2 separate regions of the Homo sapiens genome follow, and region 2 is linked to region 1. A link means that fine-mapping ties the variant in region 1 to the expression of a gene that starts in the linked region. Tissue or cell type: whole blood. Region 1 holds a variant in brackets; the other region holds the start of a gene. All regions are shown on one strand. Distances are between the middles of the regions.

Region 1 (8,099 bases):
CCTGTGCCTAGCCAGAGAGTTCATAAGCGTTTTACAGTTTTACATACATTCAGAGAACACCATTGCCTAGGTATTCTTTTACTGCAGTATCCCACTCCTCACAGAGCTCTAGGCCTGAAAGCTGTATAGAGGCATCTAGAGAAATGGGGGTTATAGAATTGGACTTGGAAAAGGAATAGGATTGTCAGTGAAACAGTCACGCGTTACACTTTTTGCAGCCCAAACGCCACCTCTTGTCCCTCCCTGTAAAGAAGCTGTTAAAACCAGATGCGCTTCCACATCGCCACCTTTCACTTCCACCTTCTAAATGGAGCTCCGGTACCTGTCTGCTTCACCCACCCCGACCCCCATGCAGAGCCATCCTCTTCGCTTGCCTGGACTTGGTGACTGGCTCCTCGTTGGTGTTCCTGGATGGCAGCGTCACTGCCTGCTCTCCAGAACCATCTGTTGCTCCCCATTGCACCCGGGGTGAGACTCAGTCTCCTTGTGTCGTGGCGTTTCCCCTCATCAACTTAATTTCCCTCCATCCTCCTGTGTCACTCTACTTCGGCTCTAGGGCTTTTCCAAGCTCTTTTCTGCCCTTCCTGGGACAGCTCCTTCTGTCTGGAATGAAGCATCTCCTCTGGCTTTTCACTAACAAGTTCCCTCTCTGTCTCAGCCCCCTGGCTGTCTACGCTAAGCCTATCCTGTTGCTTGCTTCATGGCACTTTGCAGTGTTTGAGACAATATATTTGTTCATGCTGGTTTGAGGTGAAGGCCTCGCAGCAGACTAGAGGCTCTGGAAGGAGGGGTCATGTTTGTATCCTGCACTGGCAGAGTAGATGCTCAATTATGTATTGAATGAATACCTAGACACTGAGTTTCAGAAGGGTTGTAGCACACTATACAGCTTTCTGGCGGGGTCTCTAATGGATTTCTGAAGCTACATGAATTTCTGCAGAGGTTAGAAGAGACAGAGTTAGGTACAAACATGGGGGTAGCGGAGGTAGCTACTGGGGCCCTCTAGACCTGTGCTTCCAAAGAATGCCCTTTGAGACAGGTGGAGACTCACGCCTGTAATCCTAGCACTTTGGGAGGCCAAGGCAGGAGGATTGCTTGAGGCCGGGAGTTCCAAGACCAACTTGGCCAACATAGCAAACTCCTGTCTCTATTTATTAAAAAAAAAATTTTTTTTTTAAAGAGCACCCTTTGACCTACTGGCTCAGGAAAAACGTGACCTCTCTGTTCCTAGTGACCCTCTGAAAAGTGTTTAGATAGAAATAAGAGATTTCTCCTTGCTCCTTTTTGTTCACTTCTTGATAATCAGAGATGTTTATGTGGAACGGGCAGCTTTGGTATGGAATGTCTGAAAGGAAGGAGAAAGATGTATGGTGCACTCAGCTCTGTTTCTCAATTAACAGAACTAAACTGTCCATTTTGAGCTTCATCCTGACTTTGAGTGGTTTTATCCTGAAAGTGGTGGAAATTAAAGCCCTGTACACCAGACTGTGTCTGTCACAGGGGAACAGGGGTGGAGAAGTGCTTGGTGAACTCTTCAACTTTCCTTACACTCAGAAGATACTTTTTTTTTTTTTTTTTTTTTTTTTTTAAGAGACAGGGTCTTGCTCTGTTGCCCAGGCTGGAGCGCAGTGGTGCGATCATAGTTCACTGCAGCCTTGAACTGGGCTCAAGCGATTCTCCCACCTTAGCCTCCAGGGTAGGTGGGACTATAGGCGTGTGCCACCACGCCCAGCTAGTTTTTTATTTTTACTTTTTTTAAGAGACGGGATCTCCCTATGTTGGCCCAGGCTGGTCTTGAACTCCCAGCCTCAGACGATCCTTCAGCCTTGGCCTCCCAAGGCATGAGCCACTGCGCCTGGCTAAAAAGACATAATTGCTACTGCTCAATGTCACAGATGGATAGCTTAGGGAATGTATCTGTACCAGCAGAAAACCTTAAAGAATGGATGTTATAAATCTAAGAAGCAGATAAGATAAATGGTGATTTGGAACTGAAATTGGCTTTTATTTTAATGTGACCACTTTATAAGCACTTCTGTGTTATTACCATAGGAAGAAATCAGTTTGTATTAAACTCTTTGGTGACTTTTTTTTTTTTAAAAAGGCAGTCTTGCTTTGTTGCCCAGGGTGGAGTGCAGTAGCATGATCTTGGCTCACCGCAACCTCTGCCTCCTGGGTTCAAGAGATTCTCCTGCCTCAGCCTCCGGAGTAGCTCGGATTACAGGTGTGTGCCACTACGCCCAGCTAATTTTGGCATTTTTAATAGAGATGAAGTTTTGCCATGTTGGCCAGGCAGGTCTCAAACTCCTGACCTCAAGTGATCAAAGTGCTGGAATTACAGGCGTGAGCCACTGTGCTGGCCTTTGGTGACTTCTGAAAACGTCTCTTAAGCTACAGTTTTCCACCCCCTCATCCTCATGGTTTCATCTGTGGCATCCTTCTCACTTGTCATCTTTCACCTTGGCTTGGGAACTCTTGGATGGGAGCTCTGTGAGAAGGCAAACCTGGAATGGTGTACAGAATTCTAGAAACCAGCTCCAGGGGTGGGCTGTTCTGCGGGACCCTGGGAGAACTGGACAAGCAGAGGCAAGGACAGATACTTCACCAGGCATGGCTGGGCCCTGGCTGGCTTCCTGCCTGGTAGAATTTGTTCAAGGACTACACTTAGGGAGGACAAGCGGTCTCTGCAAATTGGCTGTGGCGCTGCCTTCGTTGGCAGTGTCTCCGACAGATGCTGGCTTTGGCTAGTGTGTCCCACATGAAAAAGAAATCAAGGACAAGAGATCCCTGCAAGTCTCAGGTTTTAAATATCTGCAGCTCAAGCGCTACATGATTCTACCACCTTCAGAAATCTAGTTTGGAGGCAGTGACCGTATCAGAAAGACTTGTGTTAAATCAGTCCGCCCTTTAACTTGCGCAAAGGCATGGCGCGGGGTGACTTGGCCAGTCTGACCTGAGTGCCTAGGATCTTCCTGCAGCGTTGCTTGCCCCACCTCAAACCTCGGGCTGCGCTGGTACTGACAAGCTAAAACCACCTTGCCTAGGAGTACTTCTCACACTTGTCTGTCAGGAGCATCTGGCGGGCGCTTGTGAAATACACAATTCCTGGGCCATTGCCCCTAGACGTTGGGTCAGATGGTCTGTGGGGGTCCCAGGAATCTCTTACCAAATGCCCCAGTGGTTCTGATGCCTGTTAGGCTTGGGAAACCTTGCAGCAAGTGACAGGGTGACACCAGAGCCCCGAGTCCCAGGGGCTCAAAGCAGGCTCCTCGGGGAGGACTCTGCCCTTGTCCCGCCAGGCCAGTCTGAGGCAGAAGCAGCCGTTAGAGGGCCTGTGCTGCCAGCACCATCTTCCTGGAACTGACTTGATACTGACACCAGGTGAGCCATCTTTTCAGGGTGCACGGGGTCCCAAATGCTCATCTGCAAAGGAATAAAGGGGAAGCCACGCACAAAGGACCATTTTAGGAAACCTTTTATTGCAAATGCCATTCTGCATATTGATTTTTGACAGAAAGTATCAGAAATGCTTCTTTCCTGGGAAAAGGAATATAAATGACAGCAAGACACATTTTAGTTGCTACTAAAGAACAGCATTATTTTCAATCATTTTAAGTCGCTCATTTAATAAGCAAGGTAT[A/G]AAACAGATTAAAGGTGGGAGCCTGCAAAAGGGTAATTAAAAAAGTGTTTCCTCCCCGGGAAACAGCACTGTTTGGTCTGATCAAATGCCGAAGCTGGGATCTGATTCTGGGTGCCGTCTCTCGCTACTGGAGTGCTGACCAGCAGGCTGCCCATCACGAAAAGAGGTTGCAAGGCCAGGCCCCCAGGTGCGCTGGGATTTCTGGCTGGCTCTACTTGGGGCCAGAGAAGGGGGTAAAGGCCTTGTCACAGCCTGCCATGCATGCTTCAATCTCTTCCACAGTGCGGGGCACGCAGGTCAGCAGCTCTATGCCGCTGTCAGTCACCACGACGTCCTCCTCGATGCGGACCTGGGTCAAGCCGACAGACACACATTATCATAGAGCAGCCTCATGTGCCAGGCTAGAGGGCCGGGCCCATTCCAGGCCCACCCCACCATGGGATGGGAGCAGCTGACACTCCCTGGGAGACGGGTGGCCTCCGGGCTCCTTCATGGAGCCATCTGCCCATGTCACCTGCTCACCCTGTCTTTGCCAGGTGGATGGGAGCCCCTGGAGCGGGCAGGGGTTTTGCAGGATCTCTGTCTGTTCCTACTGAGGGGTGAGGCTCCATCCTGTGACAGACCACACGAAGGGGCAGGCTAAGCCCACCTCAAGGGAAGATGTCACTAGGGCCCCTGTCTTGGGACTAAGGAGTCTGCAGCTGCAGTGGAGGTGGCAGATGTTCTGGGAGCAAGAATGGGGCCCGTGGGCACTCACCCCGCCAAAACCGCGAAAGCGCTGCAGGACCTCGCGGTTAAGGAAGGAGGCGCGGGCCGGGTCCGCCAGGGCCTCATCCAGGAGGTGGTCGATGAAGTAGATGCCCGGCTCCACGGTGAGCACCATGCCTGGCTGCAGGTGCCGTGCAGTGCGCAGGCTCCGCAGGCCGGGCTCGTCGATGCGCTCCACGCCCTGTGGGGAACAGAGGTGAGGGGCCTGATGAGCAGCTCCAGGGCTCACCGTGGCCTCATCAGGAGAGATGGGCATGTGAGGGCCGGTGCCAGTCTCGTGGGCTCTCTTGACCATTGGGGTCCTCAGCCTAGACTCGCCCCTGCTGTGCTGGGCCATGGGCACCCTGATAAGACCTTCCACCCTGCACATACCCCTGGATCTTGAGTGTCCCTGGCCACACTACCCTAGGGCTTGCTTGAGAAGCCCTGTGGCCACCCATGTGCACACACCCGGGGCAAGCTGCCCAGACAGGCCTGTGGGGCTGGCTGAGGGTTGGGCTGCCCTTAGCCAGGCCCCGCTGCTGGCCAGAGGAGTGGCAGATGCCAAACCACTGAAGCCAAAAAAGCTCTTAAGGCGGCTGTGAAGCCCCTTGGGGCCACAGCTTTCCTTCCAGGCAGCCCAAGTAGAAACTGGCCCCAGAAGTCGTGGTCCCAGCTCCCCTAGGCCGAGGCCCAGATTTTCCGTGTGACTGTCCAGGGAGGACAGGTGCCGTCATCAGGGTGGGTCTGCCAGCCTTAGTGCGCCAGTGCAAATGTGCCGTGTGCGCGTGGCTTGGCAGGTGTGGCTCCCAGAGGAGAGCTCGGGGCCTTACGGCAGGGCCCTGGGAAATAGCCCCCAGCCTTGGAGAACGCCTGAGGGACAGTGGTAGAGCCGCTCCCTGCAGGGGCCCCTGTCTGCGCCCCACACTGCCCCAGTGCACACCCAGCCTGGCCTTGTCCACTCACAGGCACAGCTGAGGGGGCCTCAGCTTGGCTGAGGGCAGCGGGTGCTCTGGGAATTACAGGAGAGCTCCTGCTCGCCTCAGGTCCCCGGGGCACCATCCGGCCGGCGGCCAGGGCCTCTGAGCCAGTGGGCACGAGTATGCTTTCTGGTCAGGGGATGAGCCTGCCCTGCCCGGCTGCACTCCCTCCCCAGGAAGCCCAGCTGCTGGAGCGGGAGCTGTCATTTCTGACTGTTTGGGGGCCAAGAACATCAGACTCCAATTAGCAGTTCACGTAAGGTAACCAGAAACAGGCTGGCTCGGCCTCCACGCTGGGCACGGCCAGAGAGGCTGTGACTGATTCCACGGAGGGCAGGGACAGCCACGCTGACCTGGAGAGAGCAGGCCAGGCGGGAGGCGATGAGGAGACACCACAGCCTGGCTGGTGTGGCCCCGGCCCCACAACACTTGCCTCTGGGCCGCTGACCGGGAGCTGAGGCCGGAGGGCAGGGATGCCCCGTGGCTGAGGAACCGTATGGAGTGACAGTCCCTCTGCGCAGGTGAGAGGTGCATGTGGACCGAGCTGGGGCCTGTCTCCTGCCCAGAAGCTGCTGGGGGTCCCAGGGTCTCTGCTCCAGGACCTTCCCGTCCCTGTCATCCGAAGCCTGTGCTGGGCTCCCCCACCCCACCGCCGCCCATCCCTCTCCTTCATGCTATTCCTGAAGTGTCCGTCCCTGTCTCCACCCACAGCAATCGAAGCCAGGGGCCTGGGGGAAGCAAGGGCCTGCCAACGTCAGGTTTCCTTCCTTCCAGTCACCCCTCCATCCCCATGGGCCCACCCCGGCTGCTCCATGGTACACGGTTGAGGGGCAGGTTTGTTTCCCCAGAGAAACGAACTTTCCTCCCCTCTGAAATCTTGAGGTCCACCACTGAAGTGGGGTGGGGGAGATTAGAAGGGATCCCCAGCGGGCACAGGGCAAGGCCTGCCTCAGCCCAGTGGCGCAGCTGCCCCTTCAGGGTGTTGGCTCTAGGGGCCTGCCCGGGGGACCTGCTGAGAACAGGGCGCAGGCGCCATAAGAGAATGGGAAGGGCTGGGCCGGGTGGAGCGCAGAGCCATGTGGGGAGGGCACGAGCCCCTGTGGCCCAGGAAGCGCAGCCTTCAGGGGTGGGGAGGGGTCCTGCCCTCACCGCGCCCATGCTCGCCTCTGCCTGGGCACAGGGCTTGACAAGGCCTCAACTTTTATTGGGCTCCAAGCAGAGGAGCCCCAGATGTGTCTGCAGGCCTGAAATAAAACAAATGACTTTTATAGGAAAAGCCATATTTTTTCCACAATGTTTATCTGTCAGAAGAATAGACTCTGAGCACAAAGAGGTGCTTACTGGAAAAGATGAAAACAGTTTGCTGCCAATTTTTGCTGGTGGAAAAAAAGCGCTTTGGCGACTAATGAATAACGAACCTCAGCTAACAATGTCTGGAAGGCCCAGCTCTTGGCTCCCTGCACACAATGGGATGAATAGACATTAGGAAATTAAAACTGATTTTGTTTCTCCAAATTTAACTGTTTACACTTGAGGAAAAAAATAATTGAATAATAATGCTTCTCTTAAGCAATTCCCCCCACTGCCCCCACCCTGCCAAAAAATCATTCTTAGTGCTTTCAAAACACCCTGCAGCCAAGAGGCTGAGCCTTGTCTTGGCTAACTGGCTGGGGGGCCCCAGGGCGTGCACGATTGCACAATCAGCCCCCTGCATTGGGCAGCCCGCCAAGGGCAGGGATGGGAGCGCCCCAGCCGCCCAGCCGAGAGGCCGTAGCCACCTGCCCGGTTGGGCCTCCCCAAGCCTCACTTACCCTCTGGGTGGTCCTCTGAGGGCCGGGGAACCTTGTCTGGAGATGGCCCCCAGCCTCCCTTATCTGCCAACGGGCCCCAGAATGCCTGGGGATGAGGAGGCTGCAGGGTCCCAGGTGTGCGGCCCAGGGGCCTGGGAGGAGAGGGCGAACCAGCGGCAGAGCAGGGCTGCTCCGGGTTTGTGAGGGGCCAGGGTGAGTCGCCAGTGGGTGGGGCCTCATCAACTCCCCACGCCCCAGGTCTGAATGAAGCCAGAGGCGGCAGGACGTGAGGGGTGCCACGTAGCTCCATCACGAAGACCTGTCCTTAGCACCACTGTCCTGTGGGGCCCCATGCACCGTATCCTGACTGTGTGCCACCTTCTGGACAGGTGACACCTGGGCCCAGCAGGCAGACAGCACCGCCTCTATGTCCAGTTCTGTGGAATGCTCACAGATGCACCCCTGTCTTGGCCAGGGTCCCGATTCCCCCCTCCTCATGGCCTCCGTATACCACAGGGAGCCATGGGGCCCATCCCTGCCATCCCAATACACGCCTGCTGCCTCCTAGAGTCCCACCCTGCCCTGGGGGTCAGGCTCAGCGGCAGCTGATGGGCAGGCCACTCCGCCTGCCATGTCCACACTGACCTCTGGGTAGCCTCCCACGTCGTGCACGTCAATGCCCAGGAAGTGGCCAAGCCCGTGAGGCATAAACACGGCCCCCAGGTGAGCCTGGACCATGGCGTCCACGCTGCCGCTCAGGATGCCCATGTGGGCCAGCTCCTCCAGGTGGATGCGGTCAGCCAGGCGGTGCATGTCAGGCCACCAGACACCTGTGGGCCAGAGGGAGCTGCCGTGAGCCACAGAGCCCAGCAGCCAACACCGCAGGGCCAGGGGCTGGGAGATGTGAAGCCCTCACACTGGCTGTGGTGGGAGGGCCTGAGG
Region 2 (8,099 bases), 130 kb after region 1:
CCGGGAGGCGGAGGTTGCAGTGAGCCGAGATCGCGCCATTGCACTCCAGTGTGAGACTCCCTCTCAAAAAAAAAAAAAAAATGAAATGTGGAGCCACTTCTAGACAGGGTCACACCGCTAAGTTCCCAGTAGGAGAGGCCAGCCAAGGACCAGCCACCTCCTCCCCTCAGCCTCCAGCGTGGGGCCAGGCACCAGACAGATGCTCAGGCAGCCCACTGGGCACCAGACCGTAAGCGCCAGGCTGGAGAGGGTTGCCACGGCGGAACAGGACCTCGAGGCAACTGGCCAGCAACCTCCACCTTGCACCTCTGTCTCCTGGGGCGGATAGGGGTGCCAAGCATACACAGAAACCAAGAGACAGCTGTGTGGAGTCAGGACCTGGGGAAGAGCCAGGGAAGGCACAGGGATACTCAGTGGCCAGCCTGCCTCCCATAGGCCCACCCGTCCCTAGCCCCCAGTCGGCCTGAGTCTTCTGCTCCTGGAGCACAAGGTTCACATTGTGGGGTTGGGCTCTTGACCCAGAATGTGAATTCTGCAGAAGACTCTCCAGAAGAATGCTGACTCCAGTGTAACCTACGGCTCAACAGGGGTACACGTCCAGGGCAGTTCACCTTTGCCTCTTTTTGGCTCTGCAACAGCTCCTGGGAGCCACTCAGTTAAAGAATTAAGGCTATTTCTTCATCCTACCCCTCGGAATTCTGTCCCCATTCCCCACCATGACTCCTTCCCTCAATCACTGGGAGTCTCCCAGGAAAGCAGGATGGGATGCTGGACTAATTTAGAGTAAATCCCCTTTTCATTCATTTCACCAAGCACCAATCACAGGGCAGCCACAGACTGGCCCTGCGGATACAAAAGAACCCCAGGGGTTCTAAGGATGCTAGGAGAGGCATGAAGGGAAGCAACTCCTAACCCACAATGGGCAGACGTGTAAAAGTGTACTGCTGGGGAGAAAACTGAGTGTTCTGGAGTTCTGAGCACTAAACCTTTACCCGAGGGCTGGGAAAGGCTTCTGGGAAAGGGAACCATCTGAGCTGGGCCTGCAAATACGTGAAGAATCATATAGAGGACAAGAACATTCCAGGGCTAGTTGGGTGAGTGTGCAAGGGAAGAAGGGAATGGAAAAAGCCATGTGGGAGAGCAGATGCAGACAGGTCTGGCTGGAGCTGACAGATTTCAAATTATCAATCCTGTCTGTGGAAAGCTCAAAGCATTGCTTAAGGAGACAGCAGCAGTGCCACCAAGTGCCATGGGATAGGGACCCCTCTCCATGAGGGGATGGGAGGTGACCTCAGCGCACTCTGTCTCAACCTGAAGCCTACACCCAGGCTAGCAAGAGAAAGTAGGATCAACCCTGAAACACCCCACATCTTAAAAAGAGAGATGCATTCAGAGTAGATTCTTGAGTTTCAAATTAAATCTGAGATGCTAGTTTAGGGCTTCCCCTACTCCCCAAATCATATGGGGCACACCCCAGTCACCTGGAACTCTCATGGACCCCCTCTGTCCCAGGCTCTGGTAGGATTCTACAGACAACCAAACCCAACTCCCAGTGAGCCCACGGCAATGGCCGTGACTTGCTGGCATCATGCCTCGTTATGCCTGACTCTATGATCTGTTCTGTGAGTGTGGCTAGGAGCTGAGCTTTGCGGGAAACACACTTAATCATTCTGCTCTAAAGGAAGCCACTGGGGTCAACCTCAGGCTCAAAGTACATGGGAAAGCCCCATACCAGACTGGGATGGCTCTTCCCAAGGAGACTGCCAGGCTCTGGAAGCTCCCACACCCTCTCAATAGCAGACCTCTCTAAGACCTGCCACTCTGTTTTGCCTCCCTCACCCACCCTGTGTGGTGGCCCAGAGAATCGGTTCTGCTAGAAAAGCTCTCATTCTGGGGCCAGGCGTGGTGGCTCACACCTGTAATCCTAGCACTTTGGGAGGCGGAGGCGGGTGGATCACCTGAGGTCAGGAGTTCGAGACCAGTCTGGCCAACATGGTGAAACCCCATCTCCACTAAAAATACAAAAAATTAGCTGAGTGTGGTGGCACACGCCTGTAATTCCAGCTACTCAGGAGGCTGAGGCAGAAGACTCGCTTGAACCTGGGAGGTGGAGGTTGCAGTGAGCCATCATGCCATTGCACTCCAGACTGGGCAACAAGAGCAAAACTACGTCTCAAAAAAAAAAAAAGAAAGAGAAAAAGAAAAGCTCTCATTCCAGGATCCAGTCAGTTCCAGACTTGCTCCCGTCCAGACATCAGCTTGGTTCCTTCAGGAGAGCAGCAGGTCTCAGGCCAGCTTGGAATCCTGAACCCAAATGCAACCCCTGGCACTCCCTGTGAGCACCGAGCCAGCCTAACCAGAGAGACAGCACACCCACAGCTGGGCACCAGCCTGCTCAGTCTACCCTTTAAAAGGGTCACAGGCTGGATTCAAGGATCTGACCCTGAGTTCCTTGACACCCATCTGAGACTTTGTCTGCACTGTTCTCTACCTGAAGGGAGTCTCATTGCTGAAGGACTAGCACAAAAGTCACCCAGGAAGTGAAGCCTTCCCACACTTTATCTGAGCTCAGAGTCCATGCCCCTCCTTTGCAAATGGCAAGACCACACGGCAAGCAGATGGATGACAGAGTCCCATGTGTCCATCTGTTCCAGTGGCCTGTGAGTACCTTAAGGGAAGACCCACTGCTATTCCTGGAATATAGCAGGTGCCCACAAAATATTTGATTTGTATGCTCTAAGCTCCCTCAACCTTGGGGGCCAACTTAGAACCCACTTTCTGTTGCCATTTTCCCTGTATCTTAAAAAGAGAGATGCATTCAGTCCACTAGATCCCCCATTCTGACCTCAGTTTCCAACCTGGCATCTGGAATACTGCTCCCTCCTACACCATGCCCCCTCTACCCCACTGTACCACCAGACCCACACCTTCTCCCATTGAACTCACACATAGCTCAGGGGAGCCTAATCTTTAAAAAACAGATCAAGCAGCTTGTAACAAAACCCTTCCAGCCCATCAGGGCAAAGTCTGAAGCCGCCACCTGGAACACCACACCTTCCAACCAGCCCCAGGCATGCACCCCTGTCCCCAGAACACTCTGAACTCTCAACCTTTGTCCCTTACCCTGGGCTCAGATGCTCCCTATCTGGGAGATTCCGCCCAACGCTCTGGTGAACCCATCTGTCCACCCTTCCTCCCACTACGACCACTCAGCTTTCTTTCATTTAGCCCAGTATGGAGCACCTACTGTGTGCAAGGCACCGGGCTACTGAGAAGCAGGTAACATACCTGCCCTTGCACTCTAAATGCAGAGAAGATAAAGAACAAGTACAAACAATGCTCTATATAGTTTATCAGGTGATGATGAGGGCACAAAAAGTGGGATAGATGGTTAGAGAAGGATTCCCTGAGGGGGTGACATTTGGCCCCTGAAAGAAATGGGGAAGTGCCCTGCTGGGAAAAGGGAATTCCAAGTCCGTCTCGAATACCGCCTCCTCCGGGAAGCGCCCGGGTCCCTGGGGTCCTCGCAACGCCGCCCTCCTACCCGGGGGTCTTGGCAGCGAACATGCGTGTCGACCCCAGCCCCCACCGCAGCCGCACACGGTGGGGCCGCCAGACGCGGGCAGGTGGGGCCGGAGCCAGCCAGGAGGGTGGAGAGGAGCTGCGGCCCCCGCGCTGACCCTGACTCGGAGCGTGCAGCTCGCCGACCGGCGCTGGGACTCCGGGCCAACGGGAAGAGGCGCCTACCCGCGGCATTCAGCGACCCCGGCTGACGCTCTCACCCGCGGTCCGGCCGGGACACCCATGCCCCTCTCCACGCCAGCGGGAAAGAGCGAGGGAGGCGCAGCACTCACCCGGTGGCCGCCGCCATGTTCGCCCGGCACCGGCGTCACGTGAAGTGCGGCGTCAGCTGAGCCCCTCCGGGTGCCAATGCATGGGGCGGGGTAAGGGCGGGGCAGGGGGCGGGGCATGGAGTCCTTGACCCACCTCCTCCAGAGCCAAATTCCACGGGACGGGAAGGGGCGGTACCTGGGGAAGGGCGGAGCCCCGATGGGGCGGGGCTCCCGGAGATTGGGGGCCCAAGAGCTCGGCCAGGATAAATGAGCGGGCTGCCGGCTGCAGACAGTAGGTCGGGTTAGCGGGCAGCATCTGCAGCCTTTTCGTGGTGGGAGGGAGGTCCTGAAGCAGAGGACATCTTGATTCTGGTTCAGTCCCCGATCTGGCGTACCAGCCCACCCGGGAGAAGAACACATAGGAATAAAGAAACCACGTGGGAGGAGAGGAGGGAGACTGACCCAGGCTAGGGTCGGGGCAGAGGTGGCGATTTTTGTTTAAGAAGGGAAAGGGCTTGAGCAAAGGCCGTGGGGCAACTGGAGGACTCTAAATGTGCAGCGTCCAGGAGAATGTGCGCGAGAGAGGGGCAGCCTAAGGGAAGCAAGGGCCAGACCCTGCGGGGCCTCCACTGTGGGGCCTATGAGTTAAGTCTGGTAGGATCTTTTCTAGGTTTCCTGGGCTGCAGAATGGAGAAGCTGGAGGAAGGGAAGCCAGGGAGGAGGGCAGGCGAGAAGTGGGCACAGCCGAGAAGGGTTTAGGAGGGAGAGTCTGCCAGAAGGCTTACTCCTCTGCCCCACTGGGCACTGGTACTGGGTGCAGAGTCCTGCAGAGAAGGTGTAGGGACCCTGCAGCAGACGCTGCCCTCCCTACTGCCAACAGAGTCAGGGCATTACAAGCACGGCCCAAATGCGTTGCACATGTGAGCTCATAGAAACCTCACCACAGCCCTATGAGGTCGAGACTATCTTTAAGTCTATTATACAGATGAGGAAACTGAGGCCAGAGAGTGCTCACACAGAGGCTGAGCTCATGAAGCCATACCCTGAGGAGTGACCTCACTGCCCCTGTGAAGGAAGGGGGCCCCACACTGTTGGGGGAGGGCGTCCCTGGCGCCAAGGGTGTACAGATGTGTGTGGTGTACAGATGTGTGTGGACAGGTGGATGGGTGGCCCAGGATAGGCGTGTGGGGCTCCTGACCCCACCCTGCAGCTGTCCCACAGCTGGAAGTGGCTTCTGATCAAAGGTTGTGGGTTGGGGGATGCTTCTTGTTTCTTTATCGAAACAAGGATGTGGGTCACCATGGCCAGGCTGGTGGGAGCCAGGGGCTATGACTGGAGAAGCAGCTTCTGTTTGTCCCCATGAAGCAGGGAGGAGAATAGGCCCCTTAAATAGGAGCAAGGGAGCCAGCCATAAGCAGGGTAGTGAAGGGCACGTGGCACAGTTACCTGGAAGCCCAGTACCATCCCTGCTGTCCTCATCTGTCAGGAGAGAGCTAATGGGGCCACCTCACAGGGCTGCTAGAGGGTTTTACACTCAAACCTGCAGGCACAGCCAGAGACCAAAGCTGCCAGGAGGAATGTGGCCCCTCCAGACAGCCCCTCCCACCTCCCGGTCCCAGATAAGGAAAACGAGAGCTAATGGAAGAGGGGGGGCCTCATCCCTTCTACCCCTTCCCACAACACATGGACAATTTGCAGGGGTCCCTGACCTCCAGGCAAGGTCCAAGAGGAGCTCTCTCCACCCTCTTGCCAGTTTCCAGGAAGAAGAACAGAGGTAAGGATTCACACCCCACTGCCTGGCCTAGGGGCCCCTGAGAACTTCTAACACCCCTAGTTAAGCAGTAGGTCCGCCTTCAGCTTAAGAAACTCAACTCCCTAGTAAGTGGCGCTTTAAAAAATACATAATAACAAAGGGTGAGCAGAATGAGCTTTCCATGCGCCTTCAAGGAAGGAAAACATACCCCCCAGCTCATTCATTGCACCTGCCTCCCACCATTTCTTTTGACATAAAATATGTCAAAATTAAGCCAGCTGCCAGCTCTGAGTGCTTACTAATATGAAAAAGAAGTCAATATCCCAAACACAAAATAATGGAAGGAAGGCACCCACCAACTGAGTGGAGCTCCCTTGTTTGTGGACAGTAATATGGAGGCACTGCCCATGACCCCTGCCCACCCAGGTCCCCTGCCCTCTCCCCTCCCCATCAGGGGCTCCGGCAGGGCTGCCCCTCACCCCTCACCCCTCCCCATCAGAGGCTGTGGCAGGGGCTCCAGAAGCCGCCCAGAATATGGGAGAAGACCATTTAGTTACTTATGCAGGGCAGACCCAGGACGTTGCTGGAGCCAGGAGGCAATTGGGGGAAGATTGATTTTAGAGAGTCGAAGTGGGAGTGTGTAAATCAGCCAAGGCAGCGCGCCAGGCAGCACTCTCATGCGGCATTGCCTCCGAGGTCACAGGCCCTTGTGGCCGAAACAGTCTCCTCTCGTCAAGCCCTGCAGGTGGCTGGTAGATGTCTGCACTCGGTCAGCCTGGTAGCCCGGTAGCCAGCATAGCATTATTCTCCAGAAGGGCCCCCCCAACTCCCGTCAGGCCTTGCAAAAGAAGCTTCACCCTGGGAAGACACCTCTTGTGTCCCGGGACACTGTGTCCAGCCAGGTTTCCCTCCTCCACCCATTCCCCACAATCTAGCCCCCACTCTTGCAACTCCGTGGACGCTGCTGACAGCTGGCTGCCTGGAGACGGCAGGCCCAGATGTGGCGGCCTGCTAGGCTCTGACTCATGAGCCACCCTTGGGCCATGAAGGGGAGGTCCCCGGGAAGAGCCCTGTCCATCTTCTGCTGTGGATTGAGGGCACTGGTCTACCAGAGGCTCTGTGGGACTGCACTGGAGGTAGCCTGGATGCTGGTTCTGCCCTGCACCACCCAGTTGTTGCCCACAGTGCCACTCCAGGACTGGCCATGCTGTGAGGGCCAGGGATCCAGACCCTGCCCTTGCCTAGAGGATCTTTGGTCTGGGGACAGAGGTAGAGGAGCCCTCCACACTGTCCCTGGGGAGTCCACCATCTGGGAGGGCCTCAGAACGGGGCTTCGAGGGTTCTGCTTTTGGCTAATGGGGAGATCCTGGGGGATTCTGAGCTGCAAGCTGCCGATCCAAACCCCTCTCTCCAGCAGGAGCTCAGGAGGATTAGCAGAGAGAACTGAAAAGAGCCAATAAGAGCCAATAAAGCCACTGCACGGGGCCGCCAGCCTCAGATGGTCAAAGCCCTACACAAGATGGCATTTGGGTGTTTTGCGATTGTTTGCTTTTGCTGAGAATAGAAGACTGGATGCAGAAAGCCAGCACCAAATAAACAGAAGAGGAAGAATAGAGGGGACTGTGGGTGTGAGATAGGGGCAGGGTGGCATATGGCAACCCAGTGTCTTCCCAAGTGGGAAAGCAAGGAGCGTGATGGGTGTGGAATGCCCAGGAGACCGTCTCTCTATCCTGGTTCTGGCAGATCCCAGCCTTGGGCCTTTGCAGGGCCTGCAGAGGTAGCCACAGCTCTCCCACTCCAAAGGCCTGTGTGGCCTGCTCCTTCCTCCAGGCCTACACCCCAGCTGTCACCACCATCCATCAACCCCCCTCCTCACAGGAGCCCCCACATCACGTTCTACTCCTCCTCTCCTTTCTCCCCCAGCCCAGCCCACCTGGGCATCTATCTTCCTGTAGAAAAGAGGCAGGCAGAGCTGAGGGGCCTTCCCAAGGAAGCCCCCATCACCGCCTCAGATGAAGTGGTCCCTGCTGAATGCTTTGCTGGGGTCTACGAGGCAATTCAAGATGAGAAATGGAACGGTGGCTTCGGAAAAGCAAATCATTCCAACAGCACCTGAAAACATCGAAGGAAACAAGCTCTTTTTGTGTGTGTGGAAATGGGGAATATATTGTTTCTCACTGTTTCGAAGACTGTTTTCCCATCTTGAAATCACAAGCTGTTTTCTTCCAGAGAGACTTATAAATACATCCAATTATCGACATTCAATATAAGAAATAAAGTTCTGAAATGGTTTTCTTCAGCACATGCAGAGTGAGCCGACCAGGTTGGGCAGGTGATAATTACTTTTATTTCTTACGAGTGGGTATCACCGCGGAGTGGCTAGAAGCTTCACCTTTTATTGCCTTCACCTTTTATTACATTTCCCACGTTGTGCAGGGCTATTCATTGGTAATTTTATTATCCCATATCAAGATCTTGATTAAAAAAAAGGATGAAATTTCTAATTTCAAAAG

What was found. PIP is the estimated chance that this variant, and not a neighbour inherited with it, causes the effect.
Region 2: it holds the start of PEPD, and the variant in region 1 is fine-mapped to the expression of PEPD in whole blood (TOPMed, PIP 0.93).

The regions. Positions count from the first base shown.
Region 1 is chr19:33,383,493-33,391,591 of GRCh38, forward strand. PEPD (peptidase D) reads right to left here. Exons shown (of 15, transcript NM_000285.4): 13 at 7,803-7,987; 14 at 4,398-4,589; 15 at 3,458-3,989. The coding sequence ends at 3,852. Among named protein-coding and RNA genes, the nearest start is that of CEBPG, 14 kb to the left of the region's middle. RefSeq lists an enhancer at 5,945-6,847. The variant A/G (reference allele first, on the strand shown) is at 3,641.
Region 2 is chr19:33,517,890-33,525,988 of GRCh38, forward strand. PEPD (peptidase D) reads right to left here and starts at 3,902. Exons shown (of 15, transcript NM_000285.4): 1 at 3,855-3,902. The coding sequence starts at 3,871. LOC105372370 (a long non-coding RNA gene) reads left to right here and starts at 4,045. Exons shown (of 3, transcript XR_935918.3): 1 at 4,045-4,125; 2 at 5,532-5,607; 3 at 7,510-7,888. RefSeq lists enhancers at 3,203-4,166, 4,167-5,129 and a silencer at 3,912-4,111.